Linked DNA regions of Homo sapiens. The protein of the gene in region 2 interacts with the protein of the main gene of each other region in a biochemical or structural test. Each region holds a gene or a part of one and is shown on either strand. Other genes may lie near its edges.

Region 1 (7,912 bases), on a different chromosome or scaffold from region 2:
AACCTTCATAGAGTAGAGCCCAGAAGATGGTAACACTGGTTCAAGGACAGGCTAAGGGAAGCGAAGGGAAGTAAAAGGAAGTAAATAGGAAAATACAACAAACATGTGATTAACAGCTGTTTTCTGAAGCAAGGCTCCACCAGGGATCTGCAGCTGTGTCATTGTGCTTCAATTCTGCAGCTCCTACAGGGCTAAATTGGAAGAGGCATGGAGCAGGAAGATATGTGCGAAAAGGCTAAAGGAAGTCCAAAAACCGTGGCAACAATATAAGGTGAATGCCCCCACTCCTTAGATATCCTAATTTTTATCCCTCATGGGAGAGGTATAGGTCCATAAGAAACAAAGTCATCTTACCAACTGGATATCTGCTCCGAGCTGCTGCTGCTTCCTCTTCCTTTTTTTGGGGGGTGGGGGCCGATTTTGGAAGGGCAAATATTGATGGAACATCTACCAACACTGCCTCTTCCCTTTAACAAAATCAACATGATGCATGCTTACAGATTGCCTTTGAAAGTTACCAGTGCCTCCTCAAGATATAGTAGAGAAGCAGGTTTTAAGGTGTCAGACTGAGGCTTTCAAAATAATAGCTGCTAGGAGAATACAAGTTTGGGCCTGAAAACCCAGTTATGAGGCTTCCAAATAAATCAGTGGATTTTCAACTTTTTTTTGTAATTATTATATCCTAGTTCCCAAACAACCACAGTAAAGGAGGCACATGGAAAGCGAGGAAAAAATGAAATGGCATTGTCTTCCCCCAGGTGCTCAATCAGTATATTTCCTTTGATGTGTAGCCTTCAAGTAACTGACAACCCCAAGTGGCCCATTCTATAGGGTCCTGCATCTACGCTCCTTCCTCTGTGCGCTCAGCCCGGGTTGACAAGCAACCTCCAAATTAAACAACCTCCCACCACTACTTGGAAACAGACAACCATCTCTTAACAGGCCTCTGTAACACACAGCTTGATGAAAATCACTTACACAGGGCAGATGACACAGAGGAGTTTACAAGGTCGGGGCACTCCTTGGCGGGGCGTGAAAGGGTGGGAGGTGCTGAGGTCAGGGTTAAACTACCCTGTGAAATGAGCCTCCTGCCCTGCCCTTTCCTCCCTTCATCTATAGAAGGAGCCTCCAGTGAGTTCCTGCGTCTGGAAATCTGCCCCCTTTAGTGCCGCAGACAGGCCAGGGACAGCATTTCAAAGCTCCTCTAAATCAATCCACTTAAAAGAGCCCAGAAAAGCCTGACCATTGACCATAATTGCCCTAAATTGCTTGTTTTCCTTCCCCTCTTGCAGCCTCATCAACATTTCCCTTCTTTCCCCCTTCGTGTCCTTTTTTCTTGGGGGCGCAGGTCCTCTAGATGCTTGGGGTGCACACTAAGGATATTTGAGTAGTGGGAGCTCCGACTCGAGGCAGGAGTGGGATGTCTTAGCATTCCGTCTCCCCCACCCCACCCATCTGCGTGGGACACAGTGACTCCTAGAAGGGTATCCCAGGATTTTAGCGGCCAGGTGTGAGCGCCCTCCACGCGGTCCTCCGAGACCTCAGGGCGCGTGGCAACTGGGCAGAAGCCGTCTCTGCAGCGCCGCTGCCCCGGGTGGAGCGGCAGCCCAGGCTGCAGCAGTGGGGTTGCCACGCCGAGTTTTCCGCATCGGCCGCCCGCAGGGCTCGCCTGCTTCTCCCCATTGTGTTCTCAGAGCTGTGGGACCCAGCCGCGCGCGCAGCCGCACCCGCGCCAACGCTGGAACCGAAGGCTCATGGAAGCGGGGCTGGCAAGATGGGGCAGGGAGAAGGAGCAAGAAGGGGCCCCAGAAGGGCACGGCGTTTCATCAATAATGCAGAGGCTCCTGGACCTCCCTGCAATACGTTTTCCAGCTAAACGCCACCAACTGGAGCGCTTCCTGGTTCGTCCCACTCGTGTGGTTTTTGTGTGTGAAAGATGGGACGCACCTTTTTCATTCATCTGTCTTCTCTCATTCTTCCTCCTTCCCTCCCTCATTTCCTCCCTCAAAGTCCCCGCTGGCTTAGCTTTAAGCTCTCGTCTTCACATCAGCACCATGTTTTCAAGCAAAATCCTGCAGGTTGGAAATGCAAGTGTCAAAAGTCCCCACTGCCTACATACCGCCAAGAGTTTACCAAAATCCACCTAGTAACGCTTATTTTCAAAGCCCCCACGCGCATCCATTCCTGGAGAATGCTTTCAAAGTTTGGAAGCTCCCTGCAGCCTGCCCGTGTCTATGCCTCAGTCAGCTCACATCACGAACAACGGTGCGGTCAGCGGCACTGAGATTAGGCTGCAAAGTTGCCCGGCCCCAGCCCACTACACCGCTGATGCTCGCCGCATCCCTAGAGCAAATTCCGCTGTGTGCCCCCAAGAAGCCAAAAGCGGCACGAAACCTACTCCAACAAGGGTTAGCCCAGCCACACACACAACAAACAAATTCCAAAACTTCTTTGTTAAGCAGCCGCAGCCTACCTGGAACGGACACTCTGCACAACTGGCAAGGAAGAAACAAACATCGCATCCCTGCAGGAAAACTTGTTGAATCCCTCCCGATCGCAAGGCTGCAATTTCCGATTTAGCCTGAAGGTTTTTGATTCTACCCCAAAACACCCTGGCGCATCAGCCACAATTTCTGGATAAACTGCAGAGTCCTCTCGGCAACCATTCTGCACTCCAACAACCACTAGTGTAAAACCCAGCGTGTCCCCTTTTACAAATCAAAAGCCAGCTGTCACTTCCCTTGCAACCATTTCCGAGACTTACCCTTCCATAAGACTGTTTTCAGCAATCTAGAGGCTCCGTAGTGCAGACGCAGCCCTGCAACTTTGCTGTGCACTGAGACCTTTCCGAGTTTAAACCAAGCGAAAGGTGACAGACTTTTAAACCTAAGAGTGGGGAAATAGGGAGAGAGTGAAGTCGGGTTTCTTCTCTGTATCAGCACCCTGGAAAAATTCAATCCTTCTTCAGTAGAGAATTCTTTCAAACCCGTTATCTGTATTACTATTAATGCGCAGAGCAGAAGGCATTGCATACAAATAGGTCCAAGTGTGCGCTTCTATTGGTGGCTGCGGAGGCCCCTGGGTCCTACTGCTCCGGTCTAAACTACACAGCAACACTAGGCACGCAGCTTTGGAGACGCCGAGGGGAAAATGGATTTAATTGATTCGTTACCTCTGGTATTGTAATGCCTGCTGCGATGTTTAACCGAGGGGGGAGGAAAAAAAAAAAAAAAAACCCTTACATTTAACTCCTGTCATGTGATCTATCATTCCATAGCTGCTTTTAATTGTCTGTGTGGAGTGGCTTTGATCATACAAAGGATTTTAAAAGAACATTTTCGAAGGAAAATTCACACAGACACTTTTGGCAGGAAAACCCTCTTTTGCTCTCTATTATGCATTATTCTCATATAAATCCAGGAAATTTTATATAATCAAATACTTCTGCACTTCACGTAGGTACACACAACACCCAATTGTATTTACAATTCATAGCTACTACAAATAAAATACCTTACATGGGTAGTAGATAGTAGAAGCTAAAATATGAGTCTACCAATTATAAAACACGGGTTATATTAGTCAAATGCTACAGAAAAAATTCCATCAATGACAATGGCGTCAGCATCATTTTTACTTCGCAAAATTAGAAATTCAAAAATATTTTCCTTGTAAATATTGACATAAAGATATAAATCAACATAAAGGTATTATAATGTCACAGTATGTCAAGCATTTACTATTAATTGCTACATTATCTTTTTACAGTTTCTCTCTTAGCAAGTTCATTAGTAATGCAAATTGGCATAACAAGGAGATTTAAAGTGAGGCCGACCTGTGGTGACTAGCAATTTGAAATATTGTAATAGTGTGCAAAATCACTTTAGTTCATCATCGGTAAAGCCAGTTATTTTAAGAATTAGAATATTAAATGCTGAATCTTAATATATATTAATTTGAAGTCTTAAACATGCTGTTTTCTTTGACCTTTAATTTTGTGGAGGAAAAGAGAAATCCTTATTTAAACTAAAATGACATAGACTTTCCACAAAATCCTAGATACGATATTTACTGATATTATAATTTAGGAAGTAACATAATTTTATTGTCTTTGATGTAAATAATTGTGATAAATTCCAATTTAATTACAAAATTATTACATATATGTAATGTACAACTGAATGAACATTGTTGGAAAGGGCCACTCTGGATAAGGTTAACATCAACCAACCTATAAATTCACTACCTATGTGTAAACTAAATAAATGAAAACACAATGCAAAAATACAACAGACTCGAGATCTTATTCCAAATACATGTAAAGCATTTGAATTTATGTAGTGTGTGCTACAATCCCTCTTCATTTCCGTAACTCTTTCCCTTTACAGCCCCTTCCCTTCCCCCAATCAGTAACCCTTGACAACAGAAGTGTTAACTTCAAGTCCAGGTTGCCTTTGCTGCCTTCCAGACCTAACTTACAGATTGCATCCTTGTAGGAAACAGAGTTAACTCTTACACGACTGAGAGGTGAAAGAAGAGAGTTTCTTTCAGGGATTAGAAAATCCAGTATTTTTATGTGTATTTGCAAAGTTTGCACCAAACACATATTTTTAAAAATATCCATGATCACTAATTCAGAGTGAAAAGATGTGATCATTGGCATTGTATCAGAGTCAATTTGCTGTATATATCCATTGCTATTGTGTCACTGAAATAGCTTTTGAATAACTTTTATTCAGGGTTACTTCAATCACTTTACTTCAGGTTAATAATTTCTCCATTTACAATAGAGTTAAAATGAAAATACCAAAGTGTTGCAATATTCAGTATAAGGGTATAAAGGACTTTTTTTTAATCTGTAAAAGAAAAGAAAAGCTATTATTTCATATAGTAAGAAAAGCATAATGACCATGCAAAGTTGAATAAAGATGACTGACATTCATCTTATTTCTAAAACAAGTAAATTATTGGTGTTTCAACTTCTTTCTACAAGGGGATCTGAAAAAAATCATTTGCAACCCAACTACAAGTTGAAAGTTCTGCATTTAATGTGTATCATTTTAGAACTGAGAAAAGATGTGTTTTACACAAGCTGACAGATTTTATACAAAATCAATGCAGCTTATCTATGACCATAATTAAATGGGGAAGTTTGATAGTGGACACATATAATAGTGAACAGAAGAAAATAAATAAACCAAAACTGACCTAATAACAAATTTATTATATAATCTCTTGATAAGTTTTTACTTTCTATATAAAAGACTGATGTAAAAATATAGCAAGCTAAACAGAAACTTAAGTTTAACTTACTATTTTTTTAAAAAAGTTTTCTACATCTCTTCAATAAATTACTTGTTTATCCAAATTATTACCATATGAGATGTATATATATATATATATATATATATATATATATATATATATAAAATAAATATATAGTTGTAAATGTTGCAAATATATTTTCCTTACTTCTTGGATACTAAGGCAAAACATATTTTAAAGAAGGATATTAGAACCACAATAGTTTTCATATATCCTAGATCTGTAGGAATATCCTTGATCTATTCTTTATTATTTGAAGTATTGTTGGACCCCTCATTTTGTCAGTGCAATTTTCAAGGACAATATATGCTATGTCAGAAACTGATATCCATTATGTCCTTGGATCATGATGACAATGCCTTATTGTGGTTACTGTGAACATCTATAAAAGTTGGAAAGCAAAACATACATGGCATATCCCTGTCTGTCATTACTACAATCAGCTTCCTTTCTAAATTTAGGTGGGTAAACACGCAATAGCATGCCACTTGATAAAACTTAATGAAATATAATGACATTCAGCTACTATCCAAGCTATTTAAAAAATTCTGCCTTGAGTAATTTTGAAATATGTATAGTTTAAAAAATTTCAAAGCCACAGGCATTGATCTATGTGTCTCTTTAAATAGAATATTTATCCATGCTTGATTTTGACAGATGAAAAGGAAAACTACCAGACATATAAATTATATTCTGAAAGCAGAAATATAAAGAATGTTAACAGCTAAACAGGCATCTTTAAAAGTGTAAATCAGTACTAAACAGCAATATATATATACACACATATATATGTATATATACACATATATACACACATATATGTATATATACACACATATATACACATATATGTACACACACATATACACATATATGTACACACACATATACACATATATGTACATACACACATATACACATATATGTACATACACATATATACACATATGTGTACATACACACATATACACATATGTACATACACACATATACACACATATGTACATACACACATATATACGCATATATGTACATACACACATATATACGCATATATGTATATACACACATATACGCATATATGTATATACACACTTATATACACACATATACACATATATACACATATACACATATATACACACATATACACATGTATACACATATACGCATATATACACACGCATACACATATACTCATATATACACATGCATACACATATACGCATATATACACATATATACACATATACGTATATAGTCACATGTATACACATACGTATATATACACATGTATACACATATACGTAAATATACATATATATATACACATATACATATGTACACATATGTATACATGCACATATACACACATATGTATACATGCACATATACACACGTATACATGCAACATATACACACATGTATACATGCACATATACACACATGTATACATGCACATATATACACATCTGTATATATGCACATATGCACATATATACACATCTGTATATATACGCATGTATACACATCTGTACATATACACATATATATGCACATATGTGTATATATATGTTGCAAGACACCACATCTAAATACATGGCTCAAAACTAATCTGTATGAATTGCTAAAGTAGGTGAAGAAAGTACAGCTCAAGTGTTAAAAATATCTATATAAGATGATACGTTTGAGAAGAAAGATAGAACTTCAAAAAGGTCAATTAAACTTGACATTAAGTGGAAGGGATGAGAACTTCATGGCACAGTGATTTGGTTAAGATGATCACCATAAATGGAATGCTCATATTAAAATTCCAATAAAAATTTGCAAAGAAAGAGGCTAGAAGAGGATATTTTCTACTATTAACAAGATTATAAAGCAAACAAGATTATAAAGCAAACAAGATAAAAGTTGACAATAAAAGTGTGGAAGTAAAATACTTTGGCAAAACAACACAAACACGAAATAGGGTTGGCATCTACTATAGACTTTCCAGATTAGAGAAAATGTTAATAGATAATTTTAAATTTGAACAGGAAGTTCTTAAGATTTCTACCTATTGTCCTAAGAAATCTGGGAATAAAAGCTCCACATACTTTTGTGAAAACAGACAAAAAATTTAAACCTATGTAAAATGTCAGATAAATTTTGAATTAGAGCAAATAAATGAATATAAATATACATATATACAATATTATGCCACCATTACTCCACTAATTAAGAGCTGAACAACAATTTTCTGTATGTTATATGAAAGTTAATGGTCAGATTTCATGGTTTGCCCTTCAAAAGACACAACTGTTTACACTATTTAGAAGGAAATCTAACCAAACTTTAATGTATTTAAAGGCTATTCATTTGATCTCTTTTAAAGACTCCCAAAGACTTGCTTATAAAGCATAATAAGACAGAAATAATTTTAAACTATATTTTTATTCGTATACCATAATTCTTAGGTAGCTAAATTTAATCATATTCCGTTATTTGCTTTTGTCCTGGACCAACTTCAAAAGCTAACATTAAAGTTATGAATCACTTACTCATTCAGTTAAGGGAGGAGACCACCCCTCATATTGTCTTATGCCCA
Region 2 (7,024 bases):
AGGAGGCTGGCCCAGTGGTCCCCAAGCTCCTCTAGAGCCTCTCCCTGTCACAAGCTGGGTCATTCTGTCACGTCCTCATCTGCCAACTCCTCCCACTCCCACTGGCCAAAGCCTGACCCCAGTCCCCTCTGGCCTAGAACAGCACACGTGTGGCCCCCTGAGCCCCGTCTTCTTGCTCACCGGTGGACCAGCTCCGATGCCAGGAGGCCCTCGGGACTGCTCCCAGACTCCCCTGCAGTCTGCAGCCCTGCGCCCACCACCTGCTTCTCCGTCCTGCGGTGGGAAGGACCGGCCTGTTTCGAGTGCTCCTTCCCTGCACGGGGTCCAGGGCCAGCAGCTCCGCGCCAGCCAGGAGTGGTCAGAGAGGCTCTGTTCTCTGGCCCAGCCCAGACCTTCAGAATCTAACTTGGGGTCGGGGGAGGGGTGGATGAAGGGGAGACTCCGGGAGCCCTGGGGCCTGAGGGCGCGGCTCACTCACCCGGCGGGCAGCGTGATATACTTGTGGGGGATGAGGCCCCGCATGCCGTTGTGCTCCCCCCGCCACCAGTCGCTCGAGGCCCTCTCGTGCAGCCGCAGTACGTCCCCCCGCCGGAAGCTCAGCTCCTGGGCTGTGCGGCCCGTGTAGGCAAAGCAGGCCACAGCCTCCACGACCCCCTCCAGGTCTGGGGAGGAGAGGGGGTCCAAGCTGTGGGAGGGGGTGTGGACACTAGGGTGGGGACAGGGTGGGGCTCTCTGCCCATCGCCCTCACCATCCTCCTGTGCGGGCATCTCGGCTTCCAGCTCCGGCTCATTGTCCGCCCCCAGGCTCTCCAGCTGGGCGTCCCTGAGGTTCAGGGCAGAGCGAGGCAGATGAGGGGGGCTCTTCTCCAGTGGACCCCCCAGTCCCCTCGGCAGCACCAAGGGTGTACCCCAGGCAGCTGGCGGAAGGCGGTGCCATGCACTTCTCGTAGACGGGGCCAGGCAGCGAGGTCAGGGGCGGGAAGACCCGATCGGGCTGCACTATGAGCGTCTGCACCAGCTGGTTCACCCGGCCCTGCAGCGCCACCGGGTCCTGCCCAGCGGGCACCGGTAGCAGCGTGGGCCCGAAGCACACGGCCAGGTTGTAGGGGTCCATCATGTTCTCATCGCTGTACTGGGCCAGGCTGGGGGGACACGCACATCACAAGCAGAGAGCCCGCACCCCGAGTCCCCCTGTCCCCTCGACCCCTGGCCCCCACCCCAGCACTCGCCCCGCAGCACTCACTGGTTGAGGAAGGTGAAGAGGTAGCGCAGAACCACCAGCACCGGCGCGGGCAGCCGCCACAGCAGGCGGCTCACGTGCTCCACCCTCTCCGCTGTGGCCTCCAGCTCTGTGGCCAAAGCCGCCCAGAGAGAGCCGCGTGAGCGGGGCTGCCCCAGCAAGTGCCCTACCCCGCCAGCCTCAGGCCCCAGCCTCACCCGAAGAAGCCAGCAGCTCGCCGAACAGGTCTGGGGGGAAGAGTGGGGGCTCCAGGCTCCGGAAGTAGAGCTTCAGCACCCCGGCCACCGAGTCCAGGTCATGGGCAGTGCAGCCCTCCACCAGTGGGTCCTCCCCTGCAGATGGGCGAGTGGTGCGGTAGGGGGAGGAAGCTGGTGACATCTGCCCGAGCCCCCACCCCCGCCCGCCCTGCCCGTCCCCACCTCTCTCGAAGGCATCACGGATCTCTGAGACCCGGAGCTGGGCACCCGATACCCGGAAGATGCCTTCATGCTGCAGGCCTGTGGGAGGACAAGGAGCTGGTGGGCACTGAGCATCTTCCCCAGCCCCTCCAGGATGGCCTCCCATGCCAGGTGCTGGGAACTGGGTGCTGGGTGCCAGGACATCGGGAGGGGCTGGGTCCTGCTTACCATTGAGGTTGATGAAGCGAATGCAGCTCTCCACCACCAGGGGCACAGGCTGGCCTGAGCTCTGGGGACAGAGGGTGTTTACTTCACCATGGACACAGCATGCCCTGTGTTGTCATTCAATTGCTTTTTTTTTTTTTTTTTTTTTTTGAGACAAGGTCTCACTCTGTCACCCAGGCTGAAGTGCACTGGCGTGATCTCGGCTCACTGTAGCCTCAGCTTCCTGGGCTCAAGTGATACTCCTGCCTCAAGCTCCCCAATGGTGGGATTACAGGCATGAGCCACCGCACCAGGCTGAGTGCTTTTATTTTCTCTGAAGAACACATCATCGTTGTCGGCACAGAGGCTTAGCACACCGTTTGTTAGATCCACTCGTAGGTGTCTGATATTTTTGATGAGGTTTTAGGCAGTGCCTTACGTTGTATTTGCAAATTGTTGCTGGAATATACAAATGCAATTGAATTCTGTACACCAATCTTGAATCAAGTAACATTTCAAAACTCAAGCTGGGTGTGGTGGCTCATGCCTGTAATCCCAGCACTTTGGGAGGCCAAGGGAGGAGGATCACCTGAGGTCAGAAGTTCGAGACCAACCTGACCAACACGGTGAAACCTCACCTCTACTAAAAATATAAAAATTAGCCAGGTGTGATGGTGCACACAGCTACTTGGGAGGCTGAGGCATGAGAATCGCTTGAACCCCAGCAGGTGGGAGGTGAAGGTTGCAGGGAGCTGAGATCGTGCCACTGCACTCCAGCCTGGGCAACAGTGCAAGAACCAGTCTCAACAAATAAAAAAAAAAAAAAAAAGAAAGAAACTCAAAGTGCTCGTTTAAAGAATCTGTTGATTCTTTTGAATATGCTACACGCATAACCACATCACTGAAAATGACGATATCAGTTCTGATCTTCTGGTATTCTCCATGCCTGGCCCTCTCTGATGCTTGCTTGCTTCTTTTCTTTTCTTTCTCTCTCTTTTCCTTCCTTCCTTCTTTCCTTCCCTCTCTCTCTCTCTCTTTCTTTCTTTCACTGGGATTACAGGCACGTGCCACCATGCCTGGCTAATTTTTGTATTTTTAGTAGAGACGGGGTTTCACCATGTTGCCCAGGCTGGTCTCGAACACCTGGGCTGAAGGGATCTGCCCACCTCAGCCTCCCAAAGAGCTGGGATTACAGGTGTGAGCCACCGTGCCTGGCCCCCTCTGATGCTTTCTGATCTCAGTATTAGTTTTCTGATCTTTCTTGCTTCCCCTTATTTCACTGTCCAGGACCCCCAGTACCATGCTGGCCAGAAGTCGCAGGGGAGAAGCTCTCAATATCTCGCCCCTAAAAATGCCGCTGCCCCAGGTTTTCTATACGTTCCCATTACTAGTTAAGGATGCTCCCTTCAATCAGCGGAGGCTATAGGGGAGCCCAACAGTGGCCTGGAAGAGGCCCACCCAGAAAAGGACAGTTGATGACTGATTGAGAGTGGAGGACCCTGGGATCAGGCAGCTGCTCCGGCCACTGAGGTGACCCAGAGCTGAAGAAAGATCAGCATGTACAGGTGGGCTGGCATGTGGGGCAAAGCTAGTACCTGGATAAACTTCTCCATGTCTCCCCCAAAGAGTCTCTGGTTATACTGGGAGCTGGGGCGGGGCTGGCGGCTCTTCTGGAATTTTCTCTGTGTGTACTGGGTCCTGCAGTGAATGGGAGCTGGCTCTGAGGGGGCCAGGTGTGGAGAATAGGGTGCCCCACCCCCCAGGCCAGCCAAGCCGGCCTCTAATTCTCTGAAGTTATTCCACAATCCAGTGCGAAAACTGGGGAAGTGAGGCCCAGGGGATTGGGCAGCTGAGCTGGGCCCCAGGAAGAGAAGAGATGGCGGACCGTCGCAGGGCCCCAGCCCTCAGGGAGGACTCACCAAGACACCTCCTGCTCCTCCTTGTCACCTGTGGGGTGGGAGAACATTGGTCTGCCTCTCGGGCCAGGGGTCTTCAAGGCATCCCAGAGAGAAAGGTGTGGATAAGAGCCAAGGACAGGCGGGAGGGGAGGACCGTGGGCTAGACAGGGTCCTGGGCAGGGGAGAGGCGGGGAAGGGGGCAGCACTGGGCCCACCTCGCTGAAGGGCCTCCTGCAGCTTCTCGTGCTTGGCCTGCAGCTTGGCGAGGATGCTCCGTCCACTCAGATACTCCTGGAGCTTCTGGGCAGCCCCAAGAAGAGCCCCAAGTGTTAGCCCTGGCTTGAGCCCCTCCCTCTGCCCCAGCAATGCCCCCACGGGTCCCGCCCACCAGCCCAGCCCTCCCCACCGTGAGGTAGAAGGTTTCGGTCTCCTGCTGCTGGCCGCGCCTCCGGCCCGCCTGCCGGCTGCCTGGGTCTGAGCTGGTGGACTTGAGGGACTCGGTGGAGGGGCTGGTCTGGAAGGAATCAAGCACATCCCCGTCATCCGAGGCCACCACCTCCAGCAGGGCCTGCAGTGTCGCCTTCAGAGTCTTGTTCACCTGCAGAGGAGACCACACCAGGGTGGTAAGAGGTGGGGGACAGGGAGGGAGACAGGAAGTCCAAGTCAGAAGGAAGGGGCCAAAGGGAGGGGGGCAGGCAGGGCAGCCACTTCCAACAGCAGGCTGTACAGGCTCCAGGCCCTCGTCTCCCTCTAACCCCCGGTGGGCTGCCCAGACCTCCTCTGTCTCAATGGTCTGTCGGTCCAGGCGGCTCTGGATGTTCTGGGCTCTGGGCAGAATCTCGTCCCGCAGCTCCATTTCAACGCAGATCTCAGCCACCTGCAGAGGGCGGCGGCCAGGGGGCTAAGGGCTGGGCTTGGGCAGTAGGTGCCAAGATCCCCGGGGCATAAGGGAAGCAAGCACCCTTTTGTGGCCTGGCGGCCGGGCACAGGACCACCAGCCCAGACGCTCAGCTGAAGAATGGCAGGAGTGAACACACGTGTCCAAACCAAGACTTGTCCACAGAGGTTCGTGGCGGCACCACTCATCCAACTGACGGATGGCTAAACTCAGCGCGGTCTACCCACAGAATGGAAGAGGATTCAGCCACGAGAAGGAATGAATCCACTTATGTGAAGTGTCCAGCCAGGCAAATCCATAGAGACAGGAAGCAGAGTGGGTGCCAGCTGGAGCAGTGGGGTGCCAGTGGGGCTGGAGAGGAGAACGGGGAGTAGTGGCTCCTTTAGGGGTGACAAAAATGTTCTGGAATTACATGGTGATGGCTGCACAACCACCAAATTGTACACTTTACAGTGCTGAATTTTATGGTATATGAATCGTACCTTAATAAAACTCTATTTAAAACAGAATGGTGGCCCGGCGCAGTGGCTCACGCCTCTAATCCAAGCACTTTGGGAGGCTGAGGCGGATGGATTATCTGAACTCAGGAGTTGGAGACCAGCCTGGCCAACACGGTGAAACCCTGTCTCCGCTAAAAATACAAAAAATTAACTGGGCACGGTGGCATGCGCCTGTAGTCCCAGCTACTTGGGAGGCTGAGGCAGGGGAATCGCTTGAACCCGGGAGGCGGAGGTTGCAGTGAGCCAAGATGGAGCCATTGCACTCCAGCCTGGGCGACAGAGCGAGACGCCATCTCAAAATAAAATAAAATGAAATAGAATGGTAAGGAAGACTGGGGTCTGAGACAGAACAGGGAGAGCCCAGCCCCACCTCTTCCAGGGAAAGGAGTGGACGGAAAAACTGCTCACTGTAACTGGGCAGACATAAATTTCCCTGTGGCAAGATGAGAGCAGCTTGCCTCATGGGCAGAGTGGGAGCCAACGCTTTAGAAAGGAAGGAATTACTCTTTTAAGCATGTAGACATCTAGAAAATTGACATTACAGTTAAAATTGAGAGTGAGGATTCAGCTGTGGCTAAACACTTGCCCTGCTCTCCATCTCCACCAAGCCCCGCCGTACAGGACTGCATGAAGGCGCAAGTCACAGAGTAGAAAGTAAGGCCATTTTGAGATGGGCTCCAACATGGCTGACCCTTGAGGACATGGGACTCAGTGAAAGGAGCCAGTCACAGAAAGGCCCGCACTGTAGGATTCCACTCCTGTGAGGGGCCTCAAAGGAGAGCCGTGAACTCTGTAGAGACGGACAGTGGAAGGGTGGGTGCCAGGGCTGGGGGGTGGGGAGTTGGGGTTGAACGGGGCCAGAGCTTCAGTTTGGGAAGATGAACAAGTTCTGCGGCTGGATGGTGGTGATGGCTGCACAGCACCGTGAATGTGCTTCTGCCCCTGGGCCGCACACTTACAAATGGTGAACGTGGTATGTTTTATGCTATGTGTATTCTGCCACACCTTTTTTTAAAAGTCCATCTAGGCTGGACTGGCTCACACCTGCAATCCCAGCACTTTGGGAGGCCGAGGCGGGTGGATCACTTGAGCCCAGGAGTTTGAGACCAGCCTTGGCAATATGGTAAAACCCTGACTCTACCAAAAATACAAAAATTACCCTGTCTCATAACCTGGTCTCAAAATAAATAAATAAATAAGTAGGTTAAAAATAATTGTTTTTAAAGTACAAATCTTAGCCACGCATGGTGGCATGCACCTATAGTCCCAGCTACTCAGGAGGAGGCTCAGGCAGGAGGATGGCTTGAGCCCAGGAGTTGGAGGCTGCAGTGAGCTATGATCACACCACTGTACTCCAGCCTGGACAACAGAGCCAGACCCTCTCTCTAGAGAAAAAATAAGTGTATGCATACTCTGGGGAACATTGAAATTTTATCCCTCCTCTAAACTCACACGATCAGCAGAAAACTAACAATTTGCTCTCTGGAAAGGATATAGCAGGGATTTTGGACTCAGGGACACTGGTCCCAGATGAGGAAGATGAGAGAACACAGCAGCCCCACCATCGGAAGCTGGCCTGGTCCTATCAGCCCGGCCTCAGTGCTGTCCTGCTGAACACCGGAAATGACCCAGAGCATCAACATCAGGCAAGGCCACTGTGTGACCTTGATGGGCGAAGACAGAAACAAGACCACTCTGCGATCACGCATGAGTGAGGACAAAATCAAGAACTTCTTCCGAGCCACAAAATCATCCCTCCATCCTGGCTAATGTAAGTGACTGTCACTTCCTTGCATCACTTCAGCCTCCATCACTGTCTCTTTCTAGATAAGATTAATCAAGACATCCAATCATACAATTACCCTGCTTCCAGAAGGCATCCAATC

What was found. The genes of interacting proteins can lie anywhere in the genome.
Region 1: the proteins of ARHGAP4 (region 2) and ROBO1 interact in a biophysical measurement, tested with the Homo sapiens proteins (one study listed by IntAct).

The regions. Positions count from the first base shown.
Region 1 is NC_000003.12:79,764,988-79,772,899, forward strand, and holds the start of ROBO1 (roundabout homolog 1 isoform a precursor), read right to left. Parts: upstream 3,012-7,912; 5' UTR 2,765-3,011; exon of another isoform or gene 2,474-2,764; intron 1-2,473. UniProt on the Homo sapiens protein: Receptor for SLIT1 and SLIT2 that mediates cellular responses to molecular guidance cues in cellular migration, including axonal navigation at the ventral midline of the neural tube and projection of axons to different regions during neuronal development.
Region 2 is NC_000023.11:153,909,263-153,916,286, forward strand, and holds part of ARHGAP4 (rho GTPase-activating protein 4), read right to left. Parts: intron 4,618-7,024; coding exon 4,516-4,617; intron 4,339-4,515; coding exon 4,147-4,338; intron 4,041-4,146; coding exon 3,956-4,040; intron 3,790-3,955; coding exon 3,762-3,789; intron 3,541-3,761; coding exon 3,438-3,540; intron 1,928-3,437; coding exon 1,867-1,927; intron 1,738-1,866; coding exon 1,660-1,737; intron 1,573-1,659; coding exon 1,438-1,572; intron 1,350-1,437; coding exon 1,244-1,349; intron 1,143-1,243; coding exon 909-1,142; intron 824-908; coding exon 750-823; intron 663-749; coding exon 479-662; intron 274-478; coding exon 181-273; intron 1-180. UniProt on the Homo sapiens protein: Inhibitory effect on stress fiber organization. May down-regulate Rho-like GTPase in hematopoietic cells.